Regions from separate parts of the Homo sapiens genome. Here regions 1 and 2 are each linked to region 3. Evidence: fine-mapped expression QTL. A gene starts in region 3. Each other region holds a variant in brackets. All regions are shown on one strand. Distances are between the middles of the regions. Region 1 overlaps ACTR3 (actin related protein 3). Region 2 overlaps ACTR3-AS1 (ACTR3 antisense RNA 1). Region 3 holds the start of ACTR3 (actin related protein 3).

Evidence for each region. PIP is the estimated chance that this variant, and not a neighbour inherited with it, causes the effect.
Region 1: its variant is fine-mapped to the expression of ACTR3 in whole blood (INTERVAL, PIP 0.94).
Region 2: its variant is fine-mapped to the expression of ACTR3 in whole blood (TOPMed, PIP above 0.99).

The regions. Positions count from the first base shown.
Region 1 is chr2:113,919,044-113,929,265 of GRCh38, forward strand. It overlaps ACTR3 (actin related protein 3), which reads left to right. Exons shown (of 12, transcript NM_005721.5): 4 at 8,302-8,412. Among named protein-coding and RNA genes, the nearest start is that of ACTR3-AS1, 33 kb to the left of the region's middle. The variant G/T (reference allele first, on the strand shown) is at 4,307.
Region 2 is chr2:113,855,362-113,865,583 of GRCh38, forward strand. It overlaps ACTR3-AS1 (ACTR3 antisense RNA 1), which reads right to left. Exons shown (of 5, transcript NR_110174.1): 2 at 6,103-6,200. Among named protein-coding and RNA genes, the nearest start is that of ACTR3, 30 kb to the right of the region's middle. RefSeq lists a silencer at 6,638-6,687. The variant ACACACT/A (reference allele first, on the strand shown) is at 5,372.
Region 3 is chr2:113,884,898-113,895,119 of GRCh38, forward strand. ACTR3 (actin related protein 3) reads left to right here and starts at 5,192. Exons shown (of 12, transcript NM_005721.5): 1 at 5,192-5,426. The coding sequence starts at 5,383. ACTR3-AS1 (ACTR3 antisense RNA 1) reads right to left here and starts at 6,095. Exons shown (of 5, transcript NR_110174.1): 1 at 5,996-6,095. It overlaps LOC124906071 (a long non-coding RNA gene), which reads right to left and starts at 4,870. Exons shown (of 3, transcript XR_007087205.1): 1 at 3,166-4,870. RefSeq lists enhancers at 4,563-4,872, 4,993-5,082, 5,115-5,770, 5,853-5,902, 5,953-6,132 and 2 more and silencers at 5,163-5,222, 5,463-5,722.

The sequences.
Region 1 (10,222 bases), 34 kb after region 3:
GGTTATAATCTATGGACAATCTCATTTTGTCTATATAATCTTTCCACCCTCAACCTGCAATTATTTTAAAGTAAATTGTACATACTATTTCACTTAACAAATACTTAACTCTTAAATATGAAGGCTTTTAAAAAAGGTAAATATGACACCTTAATTTAGTATGCAGTTTCTTTATCTGATATCTAGTCATTGCTTAAATTTCTTTGATTATTTACTATATTGGTTATTCTGTTTGAATCAACATTAAAATGTGGTCTACTCATTGGATTTAGTTGATAAATCTCTTAAGTCTCTTTTTATCTATAGGTTATTTTCCCTGTGTGTTATGTTTCTTTTCTTTTTTGTTCTTGCCATTTATTTATGGAAAAAAACTTGAGATGTCTTGTAAAATTTCCTATATTCTAGGGATTCTGATTATTACATACTCATTGGGTCATTTAACATGGTACCCTACTTCCTATATTTACTTTTTTTTGTTGTAAATGGTAGTTAAATGTAAGTCTGATTAGATTTATGGGAGGTTTTTGTTTGTTTGTTTTGACAAGGAAAAAGTGGATAATTAAAGAGTAACAGGGCGTGATGAATGGGATATTGGTGATAAGCTAGATGTATCAATTGAGGGTAATTCCCAGCTCCGAGATAGTCTTATTTATCCCTTATCTGCTGAAATTGAGAATGTTAAAGGAAAAACATCTAAAAATTATTTTATTTTATTTTTAAGACAAGGTCTCAACTTTGTCACCTAGGTTGCAGTGCAGTGGCACAATCACAGCTCACTCACTGCAGCCTCAAACTTCTGGACTCAAGAGATTTTCACACTTCAGTCTCCTGAGTAGCTGGAACCACAGGCGTGTGCCACCATGCTTCGCTAATTTATTTTATTTTTATTTTTATTTTTGAGATGGAATCTTGCTCTGTCTCCCAGGCTGGAGTGCAGTGGCGTGATCTCACCTCACTGCATCCTCCACCTCCTGGGTTCAGGCGATTCTCCTGCTTCAGCCTCCTGAGTAGCTGGGATTACAGGCATGTGCCACCACGCCGGACTAATTTTTGTGTTTTTAGTAGAGATGGGGTTTCACCATTTGGCCAGCCTGGCCTTGAACTCCTGACTTCAGGTGATCTGCCCACCTTGGCCTCCCAAAGTGCTGGGATTACAGGTGTGAGCCACTGCGTCCGGCCTTTTATTTTATTTTTTATAGAGACAGGGTCTCCTTCTGTTGCCCATGCTCGTCTCAAACTCCTGGGCTCAAGTGACCCTCCCATGTTGGCCTCTCTCAAAGTGTGGGATTACAGGCATGAGCCACTGTGCCAGGCTTTTAAAAAAATTTTACTTGACATATAATAATTGTACATATTTATGGAGTATGTAGTGATATTTTGATATGTACAGTGTGTGGTGATCAAGTCAATGTAAGTAGCATATTCACCTCAAACACTTATTTTTTTGTGTTGAGAATATTCAGAATTCTCTGTTCTAACTATCTGAAAATATATAATAAATTAACTGTAGTCATCATATAGTGCTATAGAACACTAGAACTTATTCTTGCTATCCAGCTGTAATTTTGTATCCTTTATTCAAGCTCTCCCTATTCCCTTCTTTCCCCTACCCTTTCCAGCCTCTAGTAACCACTTTTCTACTCTCTACTTACATGAAGTCAATTTTTTTAGCTTTTGCACATGAATGAGAACATGCAATTTTTTATCTTTTAGTCCCTGGCTTATTTCACTTAATGTCCTTTGGGCTCATCTGTGTTGCCAGGAATGACAGGATTTCACTCTTTTTTTATGGTTGAATAGTATTGTGCATATATACTACACATATCCGTATGGACACTTAGGTTAATTTCATATTTTGGCTATTGTGAAGAGTACTGCAATAAACATGAGGGTGCAGGTATCTTTGATATAGTAATTTATTTTCCTTTGGGTATATACCCAATAGTAGGATGGCTGGATCATATGGTAGTTCTATTTGTGGTTTTTTGAGGAGCCTCTGTACTATGCTTTATAGTGGCTTTACCTATTAACATTCCCTCCACAGTATATATGAGTTCCCTTTTCTGCACATCCTTGCCAGCATTTGTGATTTTTTTTGTCTTTTGGGTAATAGCCATTCTAACTATGGTGAGACGGTATTTCTTTCTGGTTTTGATTTGCATTTTCCTGATGATTAGTCATGTTGGACGTTTTTTTCATGTATTTGTTGGCCGTTGATGTGACTTCTTTTGAGAAATGTCTATTTAGATTATTTGCCCTTTTAAAAAAATCAGTGTTTTTTTTTTTTTTTCTTGCTGTTGAATTGAATTCCTTATATATTCTGGATGTTAATCCTCTGTCAGATGTACAGTTTGCGGGCATTTTGACCCATTCCATAACTTGTATTTTCCCTCTGTTGATGGTTTTCCTCACAGAAGCATTTTAATTTAATATAATCCCATTTGTCTATTTTTGCTTTTGTTGCCTGTGCTTCTGAGGTCTTATTTGTAAAATCTTTTCCCGTACCAATGTTGTGAGAGGTTTCCCCTAAGTTTTCTTCTAGTACTTTTATAGTTTTGGGTCTTAGATTTAAATCTTTAATTCATTTTGAGTTGATTTTTGTATAAGGTGAGAGCTAGAGGTCTTGTTTCATAAGGAGAAACACTTTTGACTGGGTAGTGTAGAGAGGAGAAAATAAGTTTAATTTTGAACACATTGTGTTTGAGGTACTTGTGAGACGTCTGAGATTTTGTTAGAGTCAAATATGTGGATTTTGGAGGTAAGAAACAAGGCAGAGCTGGAGACAGAGATTCAGAAAGTGTCAGTTACCTTAGACGGGTTGACATTACCTAGGGGAACATATCACAGGGGAAGAGAACTAAGACAGAGCAGTGTGCCAGTTAGGTTTGAGTAGAGGAGGAAAAGTCTGCGAAAGAGACTGAGAATGCATGGGTAGATATGTAGAGGTAAACACTGTAGAATGGTGCTGAGATGAGCTAGAGCCCATAGATAATTTGCTGTCTTTCGCTACAAGGTGGTGATTTGTAACCTGAATGAGAATAGTTTTAGAAGAGTAGTTGGGCTAGATGAAAGTAGGCTTTTGAGTGATAGGCCAGGAAAAAAGTAACAGTAAGAGTACTGTTCATTGAGTTTCAATTGTGATTGGGAGGGAGAGAGAGATGAAGAGACACATTTCAACGTTAAGATGGAAGACATGTCTGAATGCTAATATGAAAGAACTATTAGAGATTAAAGTAACAGGAAAGATAAGGTATAATCAAGGTCTCTGAAAAAGCTGGAGGGATGAGATCCAGAACACAGATGACTGAATTGACATGCGGAATATCTTACATTATAATGGAAGTAAATGAGAAAAAAGGCTAAGTATGGAATCCATTTTACAGATTTGAATTCCTGACTGTTGGCTTCTGCTGCTTCTGCGAAATATGTGGTGGCATCATCTGCTGGTCATGGATGTGGGGAGAAGGTGAAATCTTAGCGGTAGGGGCGGCATTGACACTCGTCATTGTGAAGAGTAAAGAGGAACAGAGTAGAAGAGTAAAGGCTTGCCAGGCAAGGTTAGGTCCATTTGAGAATAATGACTATGAATTCTTAGTCTTTAGCACCCTAGTGCAAATGCTTCTGCGGTATAATCAGCATTCTGGATATAGGCAAGTTTATGTTAGGGATATATGCTGGGTTGGATTTTGGTAGACAGGATGAAAAAAGAACATGTGAAATAAAGGTGATGGGTCAAAATCTAGACTGTGTATATTGATGGCTAGGGAATAATTAAAGCAACCAGTGGACCAAAAGTCTTAATTGGTGTTCAGAAGAGATCTCTTGAGGTGGTTGAGTATGCTAGAATAATAAGAGGTTGTGATCAGAGAAGGGTATACCTGCATTTCAGCGATTGAGAGGTGATAGTGATGATGATATAAGATCTATACTGTGGCCAAAATGGAAAAGAGATACCACTGAAAGTGATGAAGTCAGTCAGTCGAGAGGCCAGAGTTCCTTTCCACTGATTCTGTCCACTCATTTTAAACGCATTTTTAAGTCTTCTAAGTGCTACTAACAAACCAGAACAAAACTTCTCTCAATCTTTATTCCTACCTTCTGTCCTCAGCAATTTAGCTATTTTTCTCTTTCCTTTTAAAACGACACTTCTTAGTGAGTCTCAAGATATTTGATATGCTCTTTGTTAAATCCAATTATATGTAACAGTTTTCATCCTTCTTGATTTGTCTTTCTTTTGCAGGATTACTCTAATGGTTATCTTCCTAACATGGAATATTTGTTTGTTTGTTTGTTTGTTTGTTTGTTT[G/T]TTTTTGAGACGGAGCCTGGCTCTGTCGCCCAGGCTAGAGTGCAGTGGCGCGATCTCAGCTCACTGCAGCCTCGACTTCGGGTTCATGCCATTCTCCTGCCTCAGCCTCCCAAGTAGTTGGGACTACAGGCGCCCACCACCGTGCCCGGCTAATTTTTTATATTTTTAGTAGAGATGGGGTTTCACCGTGTTAGCCAGGATGGTCTCAATCTCCTGACCTCGTGATCTGCCTGCCTCGGCCTCCCAAAGTGCTGGGATTACAGGCATGAGCCACTGTGCCCGGCCTGTTTTGTTTGTTTTTATTTGTTGTTTCTATTGTCACTGATTTCTCCTTTACCCACTACTCAAACGTTGGTTTCTCTAGGCACTGCTTTCAGTTCTCCTTTTTTTTTTTTTTCTCTTCTCATAAAATGGGGTGACTCAATGTTTTATTCTTTCATTAAAGACTTTCTCTAGGTGATCTCCTCCATTCCTTTGTCTGCAACCACAGACCAGATCTCTACTTTCAGTTCCTTGACTACATCTTCACCTACCTATTTCCTGGCTCTTGAGTTTTAGTATATCTAAAACAAAACGTATTATATATACTCCACTCTTGTTTATTCCAAGATCAGACAAAACACAATTTTTATGTTTTGATTAATGGATCTGGTCCATCCTAACTTCAAAGCTGGAAACCTGTTGGCATCTTCTGACTTTTTTCTCTTTTTTTTTTTTTTTTTGAGACAGGTGTCTTGCCCTGTTGCCCATGTTGGAATGCAGTGGTGAGATCTTGGCTCACTGCAAGACCCTCCACAATCACTTTGACCCTCTGGGCTCAAGTGATTCTTCCACCTCAGCCTCCTGAGTAGCGGGGACTACAGGTGTGTGCCACCACACCTGGCTAATTAAAAATTTTTTTTTTTTTTGTAGAGACAGGGTCTCACTACGTTGCCTAGGCTGGTCTCAAACTCCTGGGCTCAAGCCATCCTCTCACCTTGGCCTCCCAAAGTGCTGGGATTATAGGTATGAGCCACCATGCCCAGCCCTTTCTTATTCTTATTGACTGAGAAATCTTCAATGTGGCCCCTTGTCGTCCATACCACTATTGGTACTCTTGTTCTCACTTGGTTCTGTTAAGCTTCATTTGAGCTTTCCCAATGCTGCTATAATAGTCTTCCTAAAAATTAAAGCTGTTCTTATTCCCCTGCTTAAAAATTTCTCTGCTGTTTTATTTCTTATAGAATAAAACCTAAATAAAAGGAAAATTTTTGAGAATCTAGTCCCTTTGATCTAGAACTGGTATATCTCTCTACGCACCTTCAAATCTTTTGGCACATAAATTTCTCATTGATAACTTCAGTTTTGTTTTTGTATACCATGCAGTGTTTGTCTTTCTATACATCTTTTTCTGTTCTCCACAAGTTCCTCCATACCTCTCATTCCCCTGCCAAAAAAAAAGCCAGAAAGCAGAACTGAGTTAAGACCCGGCTTAGATATGACCTCCTCAGCGAAACCTTTTCTCTCACAAAACAAGGTGGTCATCTTATTCAAGGAACTATTTATTTATTTATTTATTTATTTATTTGACAGAGTGTTACTCTGTTGCCCAGGCTGGAGTGGAGTGATGTGATCTTGGCCTACTGCAACCTCTGACTCCTGGGTTCAAGAGATTCTCCTGCCTCAGCCTCCCCAGTAGCTGGGATTATAGGTGCCTGCCACCATGCCTGACTGATTTTTGTATTTTCAGTGGAGATGGGGCTTCACCATATTGGCCAGGCTGGTCTTGAACTCCTGACCTCAAATGATCCACCCACCTCAACCTCCCAAAGTGCTGGGATTACAGGCGTGAGCCATCGTGCCACCTTTTTTTTTTTTTTTTTTGGAGACAGAGTCTTACTCTATCGCCCAGGCTGGAGTGCAATGGAGTGATCTTGGCTCACTGCAACCTCCGCCTCCTGGGTTCAAGTGATTCTCTTGTCTCAGCCTCCCGAGTAGCTGGGATTATAGGCATGCACCACCACGCCTGGCTAATTTTTGTATTTTTAGTGGAGACGGGGTTTCACCATGTTGGCCAGGCTGGTCTCAAACTCCTGACCTCAGGTGATCTGCCTGCCTTGGCCTCCCAAAGTGCTGGGATTACAGGCATGAGCCACCACGCCCAGTCGGAACTTTATTTTTTTTAAAAACCTGTAGTGTAATATTTGTTCGTATATATTTCTTTTGCTAGACTGAGTTTTTTGTATGCTGGATGTCTGTGTCCTTAGCATTTGTGCCAGTGGCTTACAGTAGGTACACAGTAATAATTGATGAATAAATAATACTTAAAACATTTGAATTTGTAAACTTCTAATAATGTTAAAAATTGAATGATAAAGTAAACTGCAATTTTTTCCTTCCTTAAAGCAAACTGGGGAGTAGAAGTCCTTTTATAAGTATAATGCCTTAAAAAGTAGTGTGGAAACTAGAGTAAGAAGTAGATGTTAGGGATTGATACTGCAAGGTATTTATTTCTTTGTTCATTAATTTGTTTAACTTTAGGTATTGAATGTGTATTATGTTCATGGAATTATATTCTGTTGCAGAGGTTCACAAACTTTCTCAGTGCCGTTAGGGTCTCAGTAACGTTTTTCACTGTGCCACCTAGATCGAAAGAAATGTCTGATAGTTCTGTTTATTAAATACCTAGGTCCAGGCAACTTAGTAGCCACTTGAAAAAAATAAGACACTTAAATTGGAAACGTTATTTCACTGCTGAGTAATCACATTTCTGTTAGGATGCTTAGGCATCGCTCAGCTTCTCAAACCTGGAATCAGATGGGACATTGCCACCCTGATTTCTTGTTTTATATCGATGTTATTTTATGTGATAACTTGGTTTTTATGCCAGCAACTGCTGACAAACCAACTTCTGTAAGAAATAATGTCATTGAAAGGAATATATAATAGTTTGATTTATTGTTGAAACTGAATTACTGTGACTTGTAGATCACGCAGTGTCCAACTGATGTTGAGTAACACTATATTTCCCTGGAAAATTTAAAATAACTTTGCGGCGCCCTTGTGAATTTATGGTAGTACACTGGGGTGCTGTCTCAGTTCATTTTCTGTTGCTATAATGAATACTTGAGACTGAGTAATTTATAAAGAAAAGAGGTTTATTTTGGCTTGTGGTTCTGGAGGTGAGGAAGTCCAAGATGAGTTGGCCACATCTGATCAACCTCTGGTAAGGACCTCATGCTGCTTCATAACATGTTGGGGAATGGAAGAGGAAAGGGACAAAATACAAGGGACAACTTCACTTTGTAACAGCCTGCCTTCAACCCTCTGGAGAATTAACTCAGTCCTGCTGAGAACTGCATTAATTCCTCTAATGACCTGATGACCTCTTAAAGGCCCTACCACCTCTCGATACTATAACACTGGGAATTAAATTTTAACATGAGTTTTGGTGGGAACACACCACATCCAAATCATAGTAGGTATCTTAGCACACAGTTTTGGAAGCATGACTCTTAAACATTTATAAAACTTTTCTTATAACATTTTATGTGCTTGATTCTTACAATTATTCTAGGTATGTACTTACAGGTGCACTTTTTATATTCGGCATACAACAAATACTTGTTAATGGCCTAATGCATTAAAAATTAAGGAAATTGTGATAAAGTATAGTTTTTTAGGCTTAATTTTTGTAGGCTAACTTATCCTTTTATTACAAAACTTTTAAAATCTAGAAAGACTAGTACAATGGTCTTCCATGTAGATTTAACAGTTTTTAACATTTTGACATATTCACTTTGTTTTTATTGAACCATCCATCTGACAATGCGTTATTGAACTAATTTATCTTTAAATCCTTAAGTACACATCTTTTAAGGATGTTCTATAGTATCACACCTATGAATATATCCTCATCTAATATCCACTAATGATCTGATATTTCCTTTTTTGTATTTTTATTTGTTTTTTATATTAATAAGATTTAATTTGTATTTCCCTTTTTGTTTTAATAGTGGCCAATCCGCCATGGTATAGTTGAAGATTGGGACTTAATGGAAAGGTTTATGGAGCAAGTGATCTTTAAATATTTAAGGGCAGAACCTGAAGACCATTATTTTCTTTTGGTAAGTTACAAGTTATAATTTCACTGAGGAAATTTTTGAATACACTTAATGAGAACATTTTCATCATACTTCTTTGGTATACTTTGGTTATTAAATTGTCATATGTCTAAATGACTTTGTAATAAAGCTGTATCATCTTTAAGACCATCTAGTTATGGCTACAGGAGAATAGTAGTATGTCAAAGCACCACATGTTAAACACTTAAGAAGTGCTTTTGGTAGTTAATGTCTAATCTTTATGATAGAAACAGTAAGTAATGTTCAGAAAAATGTTGGAAACCTGTGGCACTTTTTTGCTTAAAAAACAATAGTCTGATTATTATATCATTGGTATTTCTTCATAACAAAAATACAATATAATCTAACTTTTTATTAAACATCTTTTTATTAAAGCAGTGCATGTTCATAACTTAAAAAATCAAATGACTTTATAAGATTTAAAACAACAAAATAACACTTTCCTTTCTTACCTCTCCCAACCTTTGGTTCATATTCCCCGGAGGCAAACATTTTCAATTTTAACAAAGTTTGCCCTGCTAGTAATCTTTTAACATGTTTCTTTTATTTAACATTTTTTTTTTATTTCTTCTGTCTTTAAGAATATTATACATTATTTACCAACTTCCTAATAGGAAAAATGAGAATTTCCCTTTTTACCTTTTCTCTCCCTCAACACAAAATACCTATCCTTTCCCACTCCTCGCATTGTAGTTACATCACAATTTTTGGTTAAATCAATATTCTGTGTCTTTCGGTGATTGTGATGGACTATAAAGTTGAAAGAACCATACTATGGACACTCATACACCCACAATCTAGATTCGATGATTAACCTTAACATTTGGCTATAATTGCTTCATGACGTCTATCCATCTTTCACTTCATTTTAGTTTTTAAATCACTTCAAAGTGAGTTGCAAATGGGAGTCATTTGACCCCTAAATACTTTAGCACGTATTTCATCAACTAGAGCTATCATTTGTGTATGGTTATTCTTTTCATATAAAATTTACATATCATAAAATCACCGGTCTGCACCATTCAGTGGATTTTGACCAGGGTTTGGCAAACTTTCTAAGGGAGCAGATAGCAAATATTTTTGGCTTTGCAGGGGTTATAGTCCCTGAGGAAACTTAATGAGAACTTTTTATACAATGGTCCCTGTCACAGCTACTCAGCTGTGCTGTTGTAGCATGTTAGCAGCCATAGACAATACTTAAATTCATAGGTATGTCTGTGTTCCAATAAATTTTTTTTTTTTACCAAAACAGGTGGTGGGCTGTATTTGACCTGCAGGATGCATGATGTGATTTGTCCAATCTTTGTCAGTTACATACATCTGTGTAACCTAAACTCTTACCAAGATATAGAGAAATTACTATCAGCGTGGAAAGTTTTCTCATGCCCTTTTGTAATTAATCTCTGCCCCCGTGCCCTAGTGACAACCACTGTTTCTTTTTCATCTGAGATTAGCTTTGCCCATGTTTGAGTGTCAAATAATGGAATCATGCAATATGTGCATTTTGGTGAAACACTTTTACTTAGCATAATCTGGAGATTGAATTATGTTGCATATACTGGTGATTTGTTGCTTTTTGTTGCTGGGTAGTATTCCATTGTATAAATTTGCCTCACTTTATCCATTTTCCTGTTGATGAATACCTGGGCTATTTTTGTTTTTTTTTTGTTTTTGTTTTTGTTTTTTTAAGACAGGGTTTTGCTCTGTTGCTCAGGCTGGAATGCAGTGGATCAATCATGGCTCATTGCAGTGTTGACCTCCCAGCTCAAACAGTTCTCCCAGCTCAGATTCC
Region 2 (10,222 bases), 30 kb before region 3:
AGGGTTTTTCTCCACTAAGGAAGATAAAATCTTGTCCACAGATCAACCATGGATCCTGACAATGCAGCAGTCAGTAAAAAGGGCTCCTGCACCCACTGAGTAATGAGGCAGTGTTTCTCTCTCAGACTCACCCGGGGCACTGTCCTCTGAGCGGATGCATCCTCCCTCAGACTCACCCAGGGTGCTGTCCTCTGAGCGGATGCTTCTTCCTCTGCCACAGACTTGAGTAGCATCTGCAGTGTCCCTCTGCCTGACTTGCAGCTCGGGGATGTCCTGTGCTCAAAATTCCTCTTGCCAACTGAATGGACTCCCTCACCTTCCCTCTGACTGTTATCTTATTAAAAACCTCTTCCTGAACTGACCCCATCGAAGCCTTACCACTAATTTCTGCTGGTTTTGATCTAAATAGGGTCAGCCTCAAACACTATCCACAACTGCTCTGATTTCACCAAACTGAATTCTTATTAATGTGACTGAATAGGACCCTTTTTGAAAGAACACGTTTTTTAGGAATTGACTGAAAACAATTAATGGGTGGACAGCTTTCATGTGGTTTGAACTTAGGAGAATCTGAAGTGGTAGAACATTGACTAAATTATTAAAATTACATACTGAGGACATACAACAAGCAAAGTGCTATATCACATACTATGAAGATTCAGAAAGTGGAAGGTGTGGTTCATCTTCATCTCATCTTATTTGGTAGATAAAATAGAACATAAGAAATTAACAACACAAAACACACATAATAATTTAATATGGCAAAACAGCAGGCTGATTACCAATGAATGATAAGAATAAAAACTTCGATACAAGTTCTACGAGGACCAAATCACTGTGAGCTCTTTGGATCAGGAAACTTCCTGGATGAGAAGAAAAGAAATTCAAATAAAATTTTTTTTTAAAGAGACACAGTCTCACTGTGTTGCTCAGGCTGAAGGTGAACTCCTAGGCTCAAGCAGTCCTCCTGCCTCAGCCTCCTAAGTAGCCTGGGGTGGTAGGTGTGTGCCTTTGTGCCTGGTAAGAAGTAAATTTTTGATCTGGATTTTAAAGGCAATGCTATGGGCTGAATATTGCCCCCACCCCCAAATTTAGATGTTGAAGTCCTAACCCCTAGTATGCCAAATGTGACTGACTGTATTTTGTATATTTTAAGATAAAATCTGCTATGGTTTGAATTTGTCTCTTCAAAAATTTAAGTGTTGCCAATGTTATCGTATTAAGATGTGGGGCTTTTAAGAGGTGTTTAGGCCATGAGGGCTCCTTCCTCATGAATGGAATGAGGTGCCCTCATAAAAGGGCTTGATGAAGGAAGTTTGTCCCTTTTTGTCCTGCTGCCTTCTGCCTGATGAAGGGAGTTTGTCCCTTTTTGTCCTTCTGCCTTCTGCCTGATGAAGGAAGTTTGTCCCTTTTTGTCCTTCTGCCTTCTGCCATGTGAGGACACAGCATTCCTCCCCTCTGGAGGTCATGGCATTCAAGGCACCATCTTGGAAGCAGAGATAGGACCCTTACCAGAAAATGAACCTGCCTGTGCCTTGATCTTGGCCCAGTCTCCAGACTGCTAAAAATAAGTTTCTGGTTTTTTTTGTTTTGTTTTTTTTTAACAAATTATCCAGTCTGTGGTATTCTGTTATAGCAGCACAAACAAAGACAGGTTCTATAAAGGGATAATTAGGTTAAAATGAAGTCATTAGGGCGGGCCCTATCTAATATGACTGGTGTCCTCATGAAAAGCATAAATTAAGACAGACACACAGAGAGGAAAGACCCTATGAGGATACAGGGTGAAGATGGCCATGTACAAGCCAAAGAGAGGCCTCAAAAGAGATGAACCTTGTGGACACATTGGCCTTGGATTATAGCCTTCAGAATTGTGAGAACAACTTCTGTTGTGCAAGCCACCCAGTCTGTGGTATACTCCATTATAGCAGCCCTAGCAAAGCAATATGGGAAATACCTGGTAACATTTACTCTTTTGAATATAGAGAATTAACTGATTCTATAAGGGAAAGAGGAGATAAAGAGAGCAATAGAAGAGACTGGATAAAAACAAGAAGATGAATTTCAGGAAATAGTGAAGATAGCAATAAGAGGATAAGAAAAAGTGCACCAGGGATCCCCAACATGAACTTTTGCTGAGGAAAGAAAATCAAGATTACTTACTCCAACAGGGATACCTTTGTCTTGAGACAGTGGAGAGAACTTCATGGGCTCAATGAGAAAAAGGCAAGGAAGAAGCAGGAGAGAACTTTAGGGAAGTGAATGGAATGAAACTAAAAGGAAGTGAGAAGCACTATGGAGATACCTCAGCTACTTAAGACAGAATACAGGAAGGGGAAGTAACATGAATCCCAAGACTAAAGAAAGTAAAACATGAAGAATGTGAGGGAGTAAAAGGAGTTTGAAGGAAAACTGGAGGAGCTAAAAACGAACCATACACATATGGGCCAAGTGTTATATAAGCGAGAAACAGGTCACTGAGATAGCATTAGATCATTCGAGCTTGGAGTCACTGTTTACAGGGATCAGAAAAAAAAGGAAATAGGGTTTAATTTTAAGATAAGAAACAGGCTGGGCACGGTGGCTCACGCCTGTAATCCCAGCACTTTGGGAGGCTGAGGCGGGCAGATCATGAGGTCGGGAGTTCGAGACCAGCCTGACCGACATGGTAAAACCCCATCTCTACTAAAAATACAAAAATTAGCTGGGCGTGGTGGCATGTGCCTGTAATCCCAGCTACTCATAAGGCTGAGAATCATTTGAACCCGGGAGGCGGAGGTTGCAGTGAGCCGAGATCATGCCACTGCACTCCAGCCTGGGCGACAGAGCAAGACTCCATCTCAAAAAATAAAAATAAAAATAAAATAAGAAACAAAGTTATATGGGAAGACTGGACTTGGACATCAACTTTTTAAACCTTTCCTGGATCCTGTGAGCCAATAAATTCCTCTTTGTGTCTAAGTTAGTTCAAGTTAGGTTACTGCCCTTTAAAATCAACCAACCAAAGTAATAAAAACTGTCAATGGAGGAGGAGTGAGACATTTCTTTTTGGCTATGTTGAATAGATGAGATATAATTTACCCAAAGTGTAGTTTACAGACAAGCCAGTCACCACACAGCCCACTTCTGGGGGTAACTGCAGAGCCTACAGGTCCTACTAAGAAGGTGGCCATGTTCTATGCCACGTTCTCTGCCCCGCTTCCAGAACCCCTCAGCCCCCAGTTCTCCCAGCTCAGCTGACTAGAATCAGGAATGTGCTCATGATCCAAAGGCCATCAGTTTTTCTATGGGTTTATGGCCCACGAGGAGGTTTAGCATATAGAACCTCTGCTTCAATAGGGATACTACTGAGTCAAACAGACATTATTGCCTAGAAATTTCATGTGGAACTGACAAATTGTGAATAAGTTGAAGTTTTGAGTTATCAGAAAGGAGGAGTGAGCAGTTATGAACAAGCAGAAGCTATAGGTAAGCCAAAATCAAACGGTATTTATAGGAGAGTTGAAAAATTAGTAGAAATGGGAATGGTAGCAGTACAGTTGGAGGGATGCTGAGTCACTGCATTTATGGGATCCCTGAACTTGCCAAGGCAGCAAGAAGATGACTCAGATTGGTGACTCTTCCACTGGATGCTTCTAGTTCCTGAGTGACTTCCAGAGTCCAAGAGGCCCAGCTCGACAGCTTTTCTTGATATGCCAGAAGGTCCTTAAAGTCCTTATTTCCATAAATACCGTCACGATACCCCTGCTCCCATCACCCAGATGAACCGCTGTTCTTTGTAGTGAAATGGTCTTAACAAACATCTCAATAATAACATTGGCTAACACTTATTTAACATGGATTATGTGCCAAGCACTGAGATATTAATTTTACACATTGTACCTCACTTAATTTTCTCAACAATCCTATGAGGCAGGTACATATTATTCTTACCAATTTATGGATGGAGAAACCTAACTTAGAGAGGTTACCTTGCTTGTCCAAGTCACATCTTCTGTAGGGGAGCTAAGTCTGAAGCAGATCTGTATAACTCTAGAGTCCAAACATGTAATTATATTTAACTTCTCTCAAGTTACTCAGTTCCCTTGGGATCATTTCGGGTGTAGAGAGTGTAAGTAATTTAACTTTAAGTCATAAAATAAGAAATGTAGCAACCAGAACTAAAAGGGGAAAAAAGACTCATCATGAATATCACGTGTTATAAAATAATCATGTGTCTTGCTGAAACTTCATAAAAGAGAAGTTCTAGAAAGTTATCCCAAAGCAAGAAGTGGTGAATGGGAATTTATTACTAATTTTAGATACATAATATGTGCCAGATGTATTGTCCTATTTGAACAAATGGCTAAGGAAAATATGTATTCTTTGTAGTTTAATAGTGGCCTCAATTTTCCTAATTTGCTTCATAAAGTCTTACGCTCTTGACAGGGAATTCTCCTGCAAAGGGGTTTTTAGAAATCAACCATGGATGTAGAGAAGAGACTACTTTGCATAAAAAAAAGAGAAGTGAAACTGTAGAGTTTAAAAAAAAAAATGTGGCCAGGGACGGTGGCTCATGCCTATAATCCCAGCACTTTGGGAGGCTGAGACAGGTGGATCACCTGAGGTCAAGAGTTCAAGACTAGCCTGGCCAACATGGTGAAACCCTTTCTCTACGAAACGTACAAAAATTAGCTGTGTGTGGTGGCGTGCGCCTGTAGTCCCAGCTACTCAGGAGGCTGAGGCAGGAGAATTGTTTGAACCCAGGAGGTGGAGTTTTCAGTGAGCTGAGATTGTACCACTGCACTCCAGCCTGAGCAACAGAGCGAGACTCATCTCAAAATAAATAAATAAAATAAAAAATATATGTGTAAGAAAAATAAACTGTGAGATATGAAGTGTAAAATTTCAACTCTTCTAATTATGCTGAATTAATAACTAAAATTTATTTTTCAAAAACTGGAAAATTTAGCAGAGATGTAGCTATTTAAAAATGAATAATAATGTTGAATATGTGTTTGCTCCATGAGGGCATAGATTTTTGTATTTCCTTCACTACTGGATCCTTAGAAGCTGGAACAGACTCTGTTATATAGTAGATGTTCAATAAAAATCTGTTAAATAGAACAAATAAATGACTGAACTCAGAAAACTGAGATTATTCTCTGAATTGTATCTCTAAATGATATACGAGCAAGTCATTTAGCATATTTGGATGCAAGTTTTATTTATTTATTTGTGAGATTTTTGTGTTATAAAAGATACTGCAAGGAGAGGGAATTTGTTCTACTAGACATAAAACCGAACAGCATGGCACTGGTTTAGGAACAGGCAATAAGTCAAAGGAACAGACTAGAAAATGTAGAGATAGACTTTGTATACACACATACAC[ACACACT/A]CACACTCACACTCACACTTATTTAAACAACATCAGTATATAATATAAAATGAATTGTTTATGACATCAGGCCATTGATTAAGATAAATAATATTAATTCCCTTTCAAGCCATATACAAAGCTAAATTCCAGATAGATCAAGGACTTGAACATGTTTTAATAAAAAAGCAAAGTATAGTCGGGCACGGTGGCTCATGTATGTAATCCCAGCACCTTGGGAGGCCAAGGTGGGTGGATTTCTTGAGGCCAGGAGTTCGAGACCAGCCTGGCAAACAAGGCAAAACCCCATCTCTACTAAACATACAAAAATTAGCCGGGCATGGTGGCACACACCTGTAATCCCAGCTACTACTCAGGAGGCTGAGGAATGAGAATCACTTGAACTTGGGAGGTGGAGGTTGCAGTGAGCTGAGATTGCACCACTGCACTGCAGCCTGGGTGACAGAGCGAGACTCTGTCTCAAAAAAAGAAGCAAAGTATAAAACTACTAGGAACAAAATTCACAAATTCATAGAAATGTTTTTTATAACCTTACCGTGGTGTATCCTTTGTAAGAGTAATGCCAGGCTAGGCCCAGTGGCACATGCCTGTAATCCCAGCACTTTGGGAGGTTGAGGCAGGTAGATCGCTTGAGCCTAGGAGTTGGAGACCAGCCTGGGCAACATAGTGAGATCCTGTCTCTGTGAAAAAAAATAATAATAATAACTGGGTGTGGTGGTACATACCTGTGGTCCTAGCTACTTGGGAGGCTGAGGTAGGAGGATTCTTTGAGTCCAGGAGGCAGACGCTGCAGTGAGCCATGACTGCACCACTGCACTCTTATCTGGGTGACAAAAAGAGAACATGTCTCAAAACAATATTTTAAAAAAGAGTAACACCAAAGCCAAAACTATAAATAAAACAGATTACAGTATGAACAATTATGTGCATTAGAGTGCAGGAGAAAATAAAAAGTGTTATGGAACTAAGAGGAAAACTTGGACGATTGAAGATGGTACCATACATCCAGGCTAATGATGTTACTTTAAAATATTTCTTATGCCTGTCACAGCGGCTCACGCCTGTAATCCCAGCATTTTGGGAGGCTGAGGTGGGACAATTGCTTGAGCCCAGGTGTTCAAGACCAGCCTGAGCAACACAGTGAGAACCTGTCTCTATGAAAAATAAAAAATTAACCAGGCGTGGTGCCATGCACCTGTGGTCCCAGCTGCTCAGGAGGTTGAAGTGGGAGAGTCACTCGAACCCAGGAGGTTGAGGCTGCAGTGATCGCACCACTGTACTCCAGCATGGGCAACCGAGGGAGACCCTGTCTCAAAAATAAAATAAATAGAATATTTCTTAAATTATGAAACTTTTATCGCATTACCAAAACTTTAGGGAAATAGAAAATAGAAAAAACATCCCCTGAGTACAACACAGTGACTATCATTTTTGCTTATTCCCTTGCAATATTTTTCATAGGCATTTTTTTGCTAAGATATTTCACATGCCATAAAATTCACTCCTTTAGAGTGTACACTTTAGTGGATTTTAGTATATTCACAAAGATGTGTAAGCATCACCACTCTTTTAATTCCAAAACGTTTTCATCCCCCACCCCAGAAAACATGACGGCAACCCATTAGCAGTTACTGTTCACCCCCACTCCCTCAGCCAAAATCTACTTTCTGTCTCTGTTTGTCATAGGCATGTTTTAAACCCATTTGAATTATAGAAGCCTTCTTTGTTTCATTTAAGTGTCTATCAGAAACAAGCTTTCCATAAGTGAACAGTCTTCAACCTTTTGTACAGAAAATCAACTCTAAAATGTTTGCAGAGGGCAAAATATAAAAGGAAGAAAAACAGAAAGAAAAAGGGTCATTCCAGGATACCAATTAAAAGATGAAAATGTACACAATTTATAAGCAAGTATACAACACAGGTCAAGAAGTGAATAGGGATTCTTTGATGCTTTCACTTTCTTAGTAAAAAAAAAAAAAAAAAGAAGAAAAAGTAAATAGGGCCAGGAGCGGTGGTTCACGCCTGTAATCCTAGCACTTTGGGAGCCAAGGCAGGTGGATCACCTGAGGTCAGGAGTTCGAGACCAGCCTGGCCAATATGGTGAAACCTCATCTCTACTAAAAATACAAAAAATTAGCCAGGCATGGTGGTGGGCGCCTGTAATCCCAGCTACTCGGGAGGCTGTGGCAGGAGAATCCCTTGAACCCAGGAGGTGGAGGTTGCAGTGAGCCAAGATCGTGCCATTGCACTCCAGCCTGGGCAACAAGAGCGAAACTCCATCTCCAAGAAAAAAAAAAAAGTGAAACAGCACTAGGTCAGATTATTGAAGAAAGGAACATTTTCTGGGGTCTGATGGTTTTACTATTGTGTTATCCTCAAAAAAATTTTTTGACCAAGGCAGTACACGCACATATTTACAAAAAAGTCAACAATGCTGAAGAGCTTATTGTAAGAGGTAAGAAAGCTTTGCCAGTCCTTCCCACCCCCAACCCACCCCGTTACCTTCCACTCAAGCCCTAGAACAAGTCTGACTTCTTAACGGCTACAGTTTCAAAAATTCTTCTGGGTGGTTACTTCCCTATCTCTAAATAATACAGTTATATCACCACTTCTTTATTTATCAGACAGACAGGCTTTATCTGTGGACTTCCTTCCTATTCTGATAGATGAGAACTTAGTTCACTTACACCCTCCTCCCTCCCAATATGGATGTCTCATTATTTTTAGTTCCTCTATTGTAATTTTAGGTAACTTATTTACTTGAATTCCTCTTTGTAATTTTCTTAATATATGAATATTTGCTTCCTGTTCTGCTAACTGTAACTTGTATCTCTCAAGTCCCCACTTTGTGTGGATCTTCTTCCCTTCTACTTCCAAAATTCTGTCTGCATGTTGTTTTCTAGATTTCAATAGACTAAGTGAAAAAGTTCAAAGGACCAGCACAATGGAATATGAAGTTTTAACAAATGACATTCAAAAAACTGTGAAGTGGTTCACGCACATAAGCAAGAAACTAATATAGGAACACACATCCATCCATCATTCAGCTTTTTCAAATCTTAACATTATCACATATTTGCTTCCCTTTAAAAAGAGAAAGCATTGTCAGTCCACTGAGACCCCATGTACTATTGATTGTATTTCTCTTCTACCTCAATATTCATCATTATATCAAAATCGCTCTTATTAACTCAGCATTTACCATTCTACCACTTGATTTTATACTTTTGACACATACTTTGGCATCCATAAACATTGTATATTAGGCTGGGCATGATGGCTCACTCCTGTAATTATAGCATTTTGGGAAGCTGAGGCGGGTGGATAGCTTGTGCTCAGGAGTTTGAGACCAGCCTGGGCAACATGGTGAGACCCTATCTCTACCAAAAATACAAAAATTAGCTGGACATGGTGGTGCACACCTGTAATCCCAGCTACTCGGGAGGCTGAGGCAGGAAAATCACTTGAACTCGGGAAGTGGAAGTTGCAGTGAGCCGAGATCGTGCCACTGCACTCCAGCCTGGGTGACAGAGCGAGACTCTGTCTCAAAAAAAAAAAAAAAAAAAAAAAAAATATATATATATATATATATAATATACAATTTTGTATGTCACACTTAAAATTTAACATTTTTATTGACACAATTTCATTCATTAGACTTACCATTCCAAATATCATTTGATAGTGTGCCTATCATCCTAATTGCTTACTATTATAAATGATGCTGGTATAAGTACATTGGGTATTCTTAGCATAAATGGGGGAAGGGAACGCTAAGAAAAATTAGCAAATAAATTTTTAAAAGAAAAAAGATAAATGTGGGATATTTAGAATTTACCTTTGGATTCAATGGAACTGGGTTCTGTCTCTTATGCATTAATTATGTTTTAGCCTAACCTAATAGCTATGAAGTTCTGCTCACAGAATTTAAAAAGATCTGGAGACATTTATAAATGAGAAAAAGCATAGATGATAATAAAAAATATATGTGTACCTACAATTAATCAATGTTCATCACAGTTTTTTTTTTTTTTTTTTTTTAGAGGCAGGGTCTTGCTCTGTCACCCAGGCTGGAGTGCAGTGCTGTGATCATGGTTCACTGCAGCCTTGAACTCCTGGGCTCTGGCAATCCTCCTGCCTGAGCCTTCTGAGTAGCTGAGACTATAGATATGGGCCACCACACCTGGCTAATTTTTAATTTTTTTTAGTAGAGATGAAGTCTTGCTATGTTGACCAGGCTTGTGGGAGTTCAGTCAGGCTGGTGGAAAAAATTTTAAAGATAGTTATAAGAAATAGACACAAACCTTCTTGTAAGGCTGGAGAGGGTTTACATTGCTTCAGTAACAGATTTGGCTGAAAGCAGCCTAATCCTCTCTACCTTTAGCTGATAGCAAAAATGAAAATAACAAGGGAATGTGAGGAAGTTTATCTAAATAGCTTGCTTACTCATGTGGTCCTAAAACCAAACTTTGATCAACCTCAGGTGCATAATTGCTCTCTACTCAGGGGGTGAGCAATGTTAATTACCCTCTAGTGGTGTTTACTCGAGACCTTTGTCATTTAATCTGTATTAAATAAATGTGAACTTTGCTAGCTTATTGAGGTGATGCTCCAGATGCAGAGCAGAGCCCCTTAGCCAGACTGACAGGCAAAATATCTGTGTCAGTGTATGTCTCTCATCCATCACTGGTTCAGGGTCTGCGGGCTGGATTCCTGCACAGGCTGGTCTTGAACTCCTGGGCTCAAGCAATCCTCCCGCCTGAGCCTTCTGAGTAGCTGAGACTACAGATATGGGCCACCACACCTGGCTATTTTTAACATTTTTTAGTAGAGATGAAGTCTTGC
Region 3 (10,222 bases):
CTAATCACTTTCCAAAGGCCCCACTTCCTAATACCATCACCCTGGGGGTTAAATTTTCAACACACAAATTGGTTGGAGAGTGAGCGAACATAGACATTCAGTCTATAGCCCCCAGGGATGTAGCCACTGAATAAAATAATCTAGAACTTCATCTAGAGGCAGTTTATAAGTCACATAAGAAAACCAGTTTTACTTATAGTCACATAAAACTTTTGATAAAAAACAACCCTAGTTGATAAGCCATTTGTTTACTGGACTTGGCTCTGAAGAAATGACTTTTGGCTAATCCTCAAAATGAAATCTACTCACAGAGGGCAAGATCTGCCACCAGTGAAGATGTTTAAAACAATGTGCTGTAGGCTTTGAAGGCAAGTCTAAAGAAGAGCTTCTAAAAATATTTTGCACAATGGTAGCATTAAAAGAGTAGGCACATGGGCCCCAAGATAACATCTGTGAAGAGGAGGACCAGTGTGTGTTTCCTTTTGTATGTTTAAGTACTAAGTCAGTGATTACTTTATAATTAAACCATATTCCTCTTGATCTGTCCATAATAAGGTCACTCTGTAATTTATAATAGGCTTCTTACCAAATTCAAGCTTTACAACAACCCTATAGGTTAAATATTCCTGTGAATTTTATAGATGAAGAAACAGAGTAAGTGAAAGAGTTCATACTCAATTCAAGTCTCTTGAGTCTAAAATCAGTGCTCTCTCTACATAAGAAGTTAGTTGCTAAGATCACACAACTTGAGAAGAGAGAAGACAGTTTTCACAGTCCCTCCCCTCTGACCACTAGGCTGCTTGGGGTACTTTTACAACTTACCTGCTCTGAATTAAGGCTCTCTGTGAATCTGATTCATCTGCCAATTTGCAAACAGTCAGCCCTGTAGTACGTACCTAAGTTGATTTTTAAAATACTATTTCTCATCTTAAAATAATGGAAATTGAGTGACATAAATTTCCTGGACACTTTTTAAGATCCAAAGACAATTTGCTAATTTGTCGTTACAATTAAAGAGCCCCCCAAAAGGCGTAAGAACTGGATTTTGACTTGGACTTCTGTTCCTTAGTTTCTTTAACATATTGGGGGCCGGGAGTGGTGGCTCACACCTGTAATCCCAGCACTTTGGGAGGCCGAGGCGGGCAGATCACGAGGTCAGGAGATTGAGACCATCCTGGCTAACACAGTGAAACCCCGTCTCTACAAAAAATACAAAAAAAAAAAAAAAAAATTAGCCGGGTATGGTGGCGGGCGCCTGTAGTCCCAGCTACTCAGGAGGCTGAGGTAGGAGAATGGCATGAACCCAGGAGGCAGAGCTTGCAGTGAGCCGAGATCGCACTACACTGCACTCCAGCCTGGGCGACAGAGCAAGATTCCATCTCAAAAAAAAAAAGAAAAAGATATTGGGAAAACTCACTTAAACTCTATGGGCTTCTGTACCACTAAGGCTTCTCAAATTTGATGCAAGTAATGGGAACTTGCTGTGGCTAACTTGAGCCACAGGAGAAGGATACTGCAAGACTCACAAATGCTTGAAAGTTTCGGAACAGGTTTGGAAATGGGTAAGAACCAAGGACCGGGTTGACCTGAACTGAAAGGAAATTGAGGTGCTATTAGGGACAAATATGAAATGAAGGATGAACTGTCTCTGACATCCTTTGCTTCTGTGTTTGGAGATGAGTAAGCAGGGAGTGGGTGCATATGCAAACAGGGTGGTCAGAAATGCTTTGGCCGGATGTGTGACTGAAGGCTATGTGCAGCTGAGGAAGGCTGGGCCACCACAGTAGCAGAGAGGCTGACCAATTTGGCATGCAGCAAGCAGGAAGTAGAAGGGATCTTAAGCAAGCAAAGTGTTTGGGTAGACAAGATTATGAGGAATGAGCACCAATGACATTTCCAACAAGCACTGAAAGCTTCCAAATGCTTCTAACAGTTACTGCCTGTACAAACACAGGACAGTCTTGACTATGTGAGACTGTGACAGTTTCCTCATGCCTATGAAATGAGAGACAGTACTTAGCACTGACATGAGCTTCATATTTGAAGGCAGCAAACTACTGAACCACATGTAGCTTCCGAAATCAAAAGATGCAAACTGGCAGACCACAGGTCAGATATGACATGCAGAAAAAAATTAGTTACTATCTTAGCCTAGTTTGTGCTGCTTACAGAATATCAGAGACTGGGTACTTTATAGAGAACACAAATTATTTTTCATAGTTTTAGAGGCTGGGAAGTCCAAGATCAAAGGGCCATCATCTCGTGAAGGCGTCCCTGCTGTGTCAAAACATGGTGGAAGGCATCACATGGGCAAAAGAGAGAGAGGGAAGCGGGGGCAAACTCCTTTTTATCAGGCACCCAGTCCTGTGATTCATTCATGAAGACAGTGTCCTCCTGGCCTAATCACCTCTTAAAGCTCCCACCTCTCAGCACTGTTGCACTGGAAATTATATTTCTCACACATGAACTTTGGGGAACACATTCAAACCATTACAGTTACCAAAGATAAAAATGCAGATTTCAGATTTCTCTTGGGGAAGAAAAAAGGCTCTGGCAATACCAGGGCTGTATTTCCACATGGCAACAGTTGTCTGTTGCCTTCTGTTGGGTTGTGGGCTCTCACATTGCCATACCCTCCTCATGGCCCCCTTCACTCATAACAGTACCTGCCTAGACCTCGAAGCACTAGTTTCCAACCCTGCTTGAGTTAACTACTTCCATGACAACTGTGCAAGGCCAGAGTGTGGGCAGCTACCTTGAGGGCCACCGGCATGGGCTGCCCAAGTGACCGAGGGCACTAACCTCTGCTCTCGAAACTTCTTTGGTAGGATCTCTTCACTCCTGACTTACTACTTGTAACTGCTGGAAACAACCATTTATTCTACCCCTACTAAACCACATCTGTCTTTTCTGTCAGAGCCAATCTTCAAGCATATGCTTCCTCAAAAGACTTTAATTACCAGGTAGTAGAAGCGGCAGCAAAGAGTCCCCATCTAGCATCTTCTAAAATGTAGTGGAGAAACCAACGACAACGAATCTGAGACAACCAGTTGTTTGACTTCTCTGAAAACAACCTCTAAAAAAAGCCTTCTCTCGTGAATAGCTGCAGACATGCTGGGCACTAATTGATGATGATGCCCTTTAGTGAGTCTCCTCTGCACATACCTGATTCCATTTGGATGCTGGCCCTCACATACTTCTATCTGCGAACTCCGGAACACAGAATATCATACAATGTATGATTCAATCTGGACTCTGCTGGAGCCATTCTCTACAAAGCAGACACAACTTTTTCTTGCCTAAATCCTTTCAAGTTGCTTTATTTTTATTTTTAAACTAATTACCATAAATCTAATTTATCAAGCTGCTTTTAAGATAAACTTTAAAATGCTTAGAGCAGTCTACAAATTCTTGCACTGTTTCACTCTTCCTTATCTCTCAGTCTTCATCTCCCATTGCATCTTCTCTGACTCTTTCATATGGATCTTCTTTCAATTTGTGGAAGAAGCCAAGCTTGTTCCTGCCTCAGGTCCTTGACACTTGCTGTTCACTCTCCTGGGAGACTCTTCCCCCCATCTTAGCTTTTAAATACCAGCTGGTCAGACTCCTTACCTGCCTTCCACCTTCCTCTCATTCTCCCACTCCTCGCCTTCATTTCTCAGAGTCCTCCGCTCTCTTCTTTCTATTGCTCTTAACACAATTTGTCTGTTTTCCGCTAATCTGTAAACTCTACAAGAGCACTTAACTATTTTGCATCCCACCGAATATTCGGAGTCAGCACAGACCCCGTCATAATAGAGTAGGTAAGCAATGCTTACCTGTCAAATGAATGAATGAAACACCCGATTCATCCCCCAAGCCAGCTTAATACATTAGATGATCTTATGGACTGAATAAGACATCCCTCCTTTTAAAGAATATTTTTGTTTTAGCTTCACATCAGCAAACCCCGAACGGTTCATCCTAAGATAAGCCTGGTAGAGAGGAAAGATACTAACCTTCTAGGGTCCTAAAGTGGAACTAGGAACTTATTAGATATGCACATTCTCAGGCATTATTTCCGATAGCCCAGTCAGAGAATTCTGGGGGTATGGCCCAGCAATCTGTTTTAACAAACCTTTCAGGTAATTCTGATACACACTAAAGTTTGAAAGGTTTCTTTAAGGCTTTCCAGTTTTCTTTTCTTTTTTGGAGGGATGGGGGGGGGTCTCCCCATGTTGCCCAGGCTGGTCTCGAACTCCTAGCCTCAAGCTATCCTATCCTCCCACCTCGGCCTTCCAAAGCATTGAAATTACAGGCATGACCCACTGCGGCTCGCCTCCGTTTCTAACTTAAAAAAATTTTCTTTGGAGGGGAGCCTTAATCCTTTCTATTATCCTGCTAGTAGAATCTTACTACTCCTGAGGGTAATCTTTGTCATAATCCAAAAGCCTTGAATAAAGGCCTATTTGTATAGTTATGCAGAATATATTCCTGGGAGGTTTGCCTTCCTAGGAGCACAGGTCGGCCCTGGGAGGTGGGGGTTGGGGGGCAGGGCTGCATTCTAAAGTCCTGTAACAACGCACAAGTACAACTGAATAGAACTCGGAACAAAGGCATCAGGGCCACGGTGCAAGTCTTTGTTCATCCGTTCCCCGACTGCTCACCCTGTCTGATACCGCTCTTTTCCACCCAGAAAAGCAGCCACTCAAGTTTTAAGAATGGATGTATGCCGCGGACGTTTTCGATTAGGCCGTTTTCTCTCAGGCACTGGAGGATATTCGTGGCTGCAGGAGGCGCTTCCACCCTTTCCTCAACCTAGCAAAGAAGTAACTGAAACTAACCCAAGGGTTACAACCGAAAAGCCCCTTCCAGCTTCAGAAGCAGAACTGGAAGCTCGGATAGACTTCTCCGCCTCTACACTCCTGGAAAACCCGCAGTGGATTTCACCAACTTCAGGATCGGAGCCCAGGCAGGCGAACGTACCTTATTGCGCATGCTCGCTAGCCCCTCCCGCTCGGAGCGGAAGGGGGAGCGCTGGGGGCCTGGGCCTGGCCTGGCCGGGGCGTCGGCACCGGCGGCCATCTTGGCTTCCCGGGGAAAGGCGGCGTGAGGGGAAGAAGTTGTAGGGTGGGGGCAGGAGTGAGGAGGAGGGAAGAGAGAGGGGGAGGAGGCCGCGGCGGGGCAGGGCGGGGACTGCCTGCCTGCCTGGGTTGCGGAAGTGATAGCCGCCGACCGAGCCTGCTGCTTTCTTGCTACTGCTTCGGCTTCCCGGCTACCCCCCGGACGGTGAAGGCGGCCCAGCTGTGGATGGTCAGATAGCCCTTGTCTCCCGCCGCCAATCTCTGGCCCCTAGCAGCACGGAGCAGACGGCGGCAGCAGCAGCAGCAGGCGAGGAGGAAGATGGCGGGACGGCTGCCGGCCTGTGTGGTGGACTGTGGCACGGGGTAAGGGGGCTTACGGGCGGGGGTGGGGAAACTGAGGCGGAGGAAGGAAGATGGCGGGGGAGGGAGGAGGCCGGGAAATGAATGGTGCGGCGAGGTGCCGCCGCCGGCTGTCAGTCCTAGACCCGCCGGCCAGCGAGGGGTGGGGCCCGCAGCCAGGGCCTCGCGGGTCCCCTCGTTTCTCCCTCCTGGGACTGGGGCGGGGGCGCGGGCCCGAGATTCAACCCCCAACCCTCCCAGCGGCTTTCTCCGCGCGACCCCTCCCGGCCCTTCCCCCACTACGGTGGGCAGCGCCGCCCAAAGGGCGCTGGGGACGGTCGTCTTGGGGGTGGTCCCCGGGCCCGACCCATCCGGCTTTCCTTTCCCTCCGCGCCCGTTTTTGCCAGTCGGTTTGGGGACCCAGGGGCCGAGCTCGGGGACTGGCCTGGCAGGGGAGCTAGAAAAGAGAAGCGCTCCTGGTAGGTTTGACAAGATCGCTGTGACAACATTCTGCCCAGGGTGTGGGTGGGGAAAGGGAAGAATCGGACTCTGAAAATGGGAACCTACAGTGGGGCTTTCATTTGACCACCCACCTTCTCCTTTCGACTCCTGGTCATTTCCATCTCCCTCTGCGTTTTAACCGGTGAACCAAGTCACATTTTAATTCGAGGGAGAAAGATGTCATGTGTTACTTCTGTAGCCTCAAAAAAGTCCCCCAGTGAGCAAGCGCGCTGCAACTTCCTTAGTTTTGTCAAAGCCGCTTCCTGCTTTCAGTCTTTTATACCCTTATAAGGTAGTTTTTAGTTTCCAACCTGAGCACATCTTACTAGAACTTTTAAGCAGGTTTTAAAGAGACTGAATTACCGGTGCTTGGTGTCCATTTATATGACTTAAAAAAATGTACTTATGTTTCATGGAGTGGGGGAAAGGAAGCACCCTGGAAAATAAACTAATTTAAGTTGTATTCGTTCATTCTGTGATGGTATCTTGAAGGAAGCAGGAAGGTATAGAGGTATATAGGAGGGTGTTTAAGTTGCAAATAGTTACTCGTAGATATGTAGGGTAGTTTGCGAAAATGTAGAGTGGCTTTAAAGTGTGGTCGTTCATTTTGTATTAATAGACGTTTTAGAGAGTTGTACCACACTCATAACTGCATAGAGAATAGACTACCCTTATTTTTATGTAGAATCACTGCTTCAGGATGACATATAGGAAAGTGGTTTTTTTTTCTGTGCTGATGACATCTCTCCAATTCCCAGAACACTCCCAGTTTTTTTTTTTTGAGGGGGAAGTCAGTAAGAGGTGGACTGTCAGGCTTTTTTTTTTATTATTAATTATAATTATTGATTTCATTATTGTTACTTAAAAGATTGTGTGTCCTTCACTCTTTATGTGAAATTTCTTTAATCTTCATTCTCATAACTAGCTAGTGTGGCAGTTTCTAAAATCCCAGTTAGGTAGAGAGAAACCACCAACTTCTTAATATTCTCCTAGGAAAACACTAGCCTTGGAACTTCTATGTATTTTTTTGATGAACACTTTATTTAAAAGTTTTTCCTTAATTCAGTCTCATTTCTCTGAACCAATAATTTTTTTTATTTCTCCCTTCTTAGTCTAATTGGTGAGTATTTTTATGTCTAGGTTCAGTTTTAAAATTAGATTTGGCCTGAGTCAGTAGGATAGGACTTTTCAAATGTGTTTTGTTAAAGTGACGAATATTGCTACATAATTAATGCTTTAGAAATTACTGCGTTTTCAAAAAAATAGTGTAAATAATTGTGGCCCTGAGAAATAATATGGTAACATCTCAAGTAGTATGTTACTTTTCTAATCTCCATTTTCCCCCTTTTGAAATAGTTTCGAATTAGTATACAAGATGTTTCATTGAGATAAACTGTCCTTAAGTGACCTCCTTTCCTAAAGGGCAACCTTGAATTTAAAACATGCTGAATGACCAGTAGGATCGGGAAGAGGGGTTCAATTTAACCTAGGCTATTTCTGTTTTAAAATTACGATTATCACAATAGTGTATTTTTAAGTTATTACATTGGTTTCTCCAATAAGGAGAGGTTATTAACTGCACATTGATGATTTGAATGGAACTGATTAGGAGTCCCCTTGCCACCTCACTCTCTTTTACCATTTGTCACAATCTGAAATTCCCCCTTTAGAGTTTCAGTTATTTTGGTTCTCAAAAGCCTTTTTGGTCTTACAAGTTTCCAGTGGTGCCTCCTGGGAAGTTACACCTTCAGCTTTATTTGCACATGGAGGATAAGTCCTTGAGGTTGAGGACCCTGAGATAAACATCTCTAAGTATGGCCTTAACAGGGAGCTTTTACATTTCAAAATTCTGTGGTCCCCGAATGCAAATTGTGCACCTGTAATTTGTCTAATTTTTTTTATGCTTTAGAGAATGCATTCAGCTCTGAGGTCTCTAAATTACAATTACTCACTTAGTTTAAGTAAAAAGTTATAACCTGAATCAGGTTGCTCATTTCATTCATTATATAAATTAGGGGAAAGGTGGCTGAAAAAAAGTGGCCATCTGTAAAACTTGATCGTCTTAGATAGGAAAGCTGTTAAGAGTTAGGAAACTTGAAACTTAAGCCCAAAACTTTTAGGGATCGTCCAGCAAAACTCAACATATGAATCACCTAGATTCAGGTCATAAAAGAGAATACTTATTTTGAAAAGAATTTGAAAAGAAATGCTTCATTCACATTGATACCCTTATCTACACACTTTTTTGGTCTGTATTGGAAAGCATTGTAAAATACAGTTGGGGCACATAGATTCCCATTGGTGGCTTGAAAACTAAATAACAGAACTCAAACCTGCTATTAGTGGTGAGAAAAGCATTTTCTTTAAAAGGCATTCACAAACATTTTTTAAAAAAACATTGTAACACTTGTATGATCATCCTAAGGTTTTTTTTTTTCTGGGCGGTGGAAGGGATCGTTTTTTAAATGTGTTTTTTGCTTTTTGTTTTTTTGTTTGTTTGTTTGTTTGTTTTGAGATGGAGTCTTGCCCTGTCGCTGGGCTGGAGTGCAGTGGCACGATCTCGGCTCACTGCAACCTCCACCTCCCAGGTTCAAGCTATTCTCCTGCCTCAGCCTCCCGAGTAGCTGGGACTACAGGCACATGCCACCACACCCAGTTAATTTTTCTCTTTTTAGTAGAGATGGGGTTTCACCATGTTGACCAGGATGGTCTCCATCTCCTGACCTCGTGATCCACCCGCCTCAACCTCCCAAAGTGCTGGGATTACAGGTGTGAGCCACCGCGCCCAGCCTTAAAGGTTTTTTTTAAATGCATGTTTTTACTCAAGTTTCTCCATCATTCAAGCCAAATGAGGGCGCTCCTTATTAACTCCTTGTTATATCGTAGCTTGGTTACAGAGCTGCATTGTGAATTTCCTTTTCCCTTTTATGTCTTTTTTTTTCCCCTGGTAAATAAAATATTGGTAAATTAGTTCCACTGATTATGATAGCAGAGGTTAATATAGCCCTATGGTCAAAGTCTTGGATATATTCATATCTGGAGCAGATTAAGGAATTTTGCTAACTGACTTCAACTTCTTAGCAATCTTAAAATGTAAGCTTAAATATCTTGTAGGTGTCAGTGAAAGAGGAGTATGTTCATCTTGTGGCCACAATTCAGCAATTAGTGCAGATAAGAATGATCTTGTTTGAAGAGCAGTGGGGAAAAGCTGGGTAAATGAAGGAAGGTATATGTGGGAAGTTCATGTTTCTTCCATGAATTCTGTGCGTATTGTTTAATAATAATGCTGTTTCTTTTTTTTTTTTTGAGATGGAGTTTTGCTCTCATCGCCCAGGCTGGAGTGCAGTGGCATGATCTTGGCTCACTGCAACCTCCTTCTGCCTCCTGGGTTCAGGTGATTTTCTGCCTCAGCCTCCCAAGTAGCTGGGATTATAGGCGCCCACTACCACGCCCAGCTAAATTTTGTATTTTTAGTAGAGACAGAGTTTCACCATGTTGGCCAGGCTGTTGTTGAACTCCTGACCTCAGGTGATCCACCCACCTCATCCTCCCAGAGTGCTGGGATTACAGACATGAGCCACTGCACCGGCTTAATAATGCTATTTCTTTAGCCATCTCCAAAGGCAGAAATATTCACAATAGCTTCTTAACCAAAAAGCACTCATTGAAATTCTTATTCCTTGATGAGTCATGCTTTGCATGCTGTTTGAAGTAAGTACAACAGACATGCTCCTAGTGAGAAGTCAGACTCTTACTTAGACTTAGCGAAAGACTCTCCCTCCTTTCCTGCCTGCCAATTTTGTGTTGAAATATTGACTTTGGATTGCAAATACTATATTGCGGTGAACGAACTTTCAGGCTTATTGTAAAACACAGTTCAGAATTTTAGGCACAGAACGGAAAGGTCCTGTGGAGGACCTGCTGGCCATGCTTTCTGTGACAGCTATTTTTTAACCTAATTTTATAAGTGAAAAAACAGAATGAGAGAATTTAAATTACCTTTTTGATGCCGTCTACCTGGCAGGTGGTTCGATCTGCTATTTGGACCTGAGTTCTGTATTTAAGTCCTGTGTTCTTTCTGTTAACACTCCGGGGACTCCTGACTGCCTTTTCAGAACTTTATGTGTTGCTTCATTGTTGTTAGTAAAGTTAACTGTATTTCTGTTTAAAGAACTCTTACAAAAAAAAATCTCAGCCTTATGAATTTGATTCACCTAATTAGAGAAAACCCTCTGTGTAATCTTTACTTGGTTTAGGTTCCCCCCCCCCACCCCCCTGCCGATATGTGAATGCCTAGACTATTTCCTTGTTACTTTGCT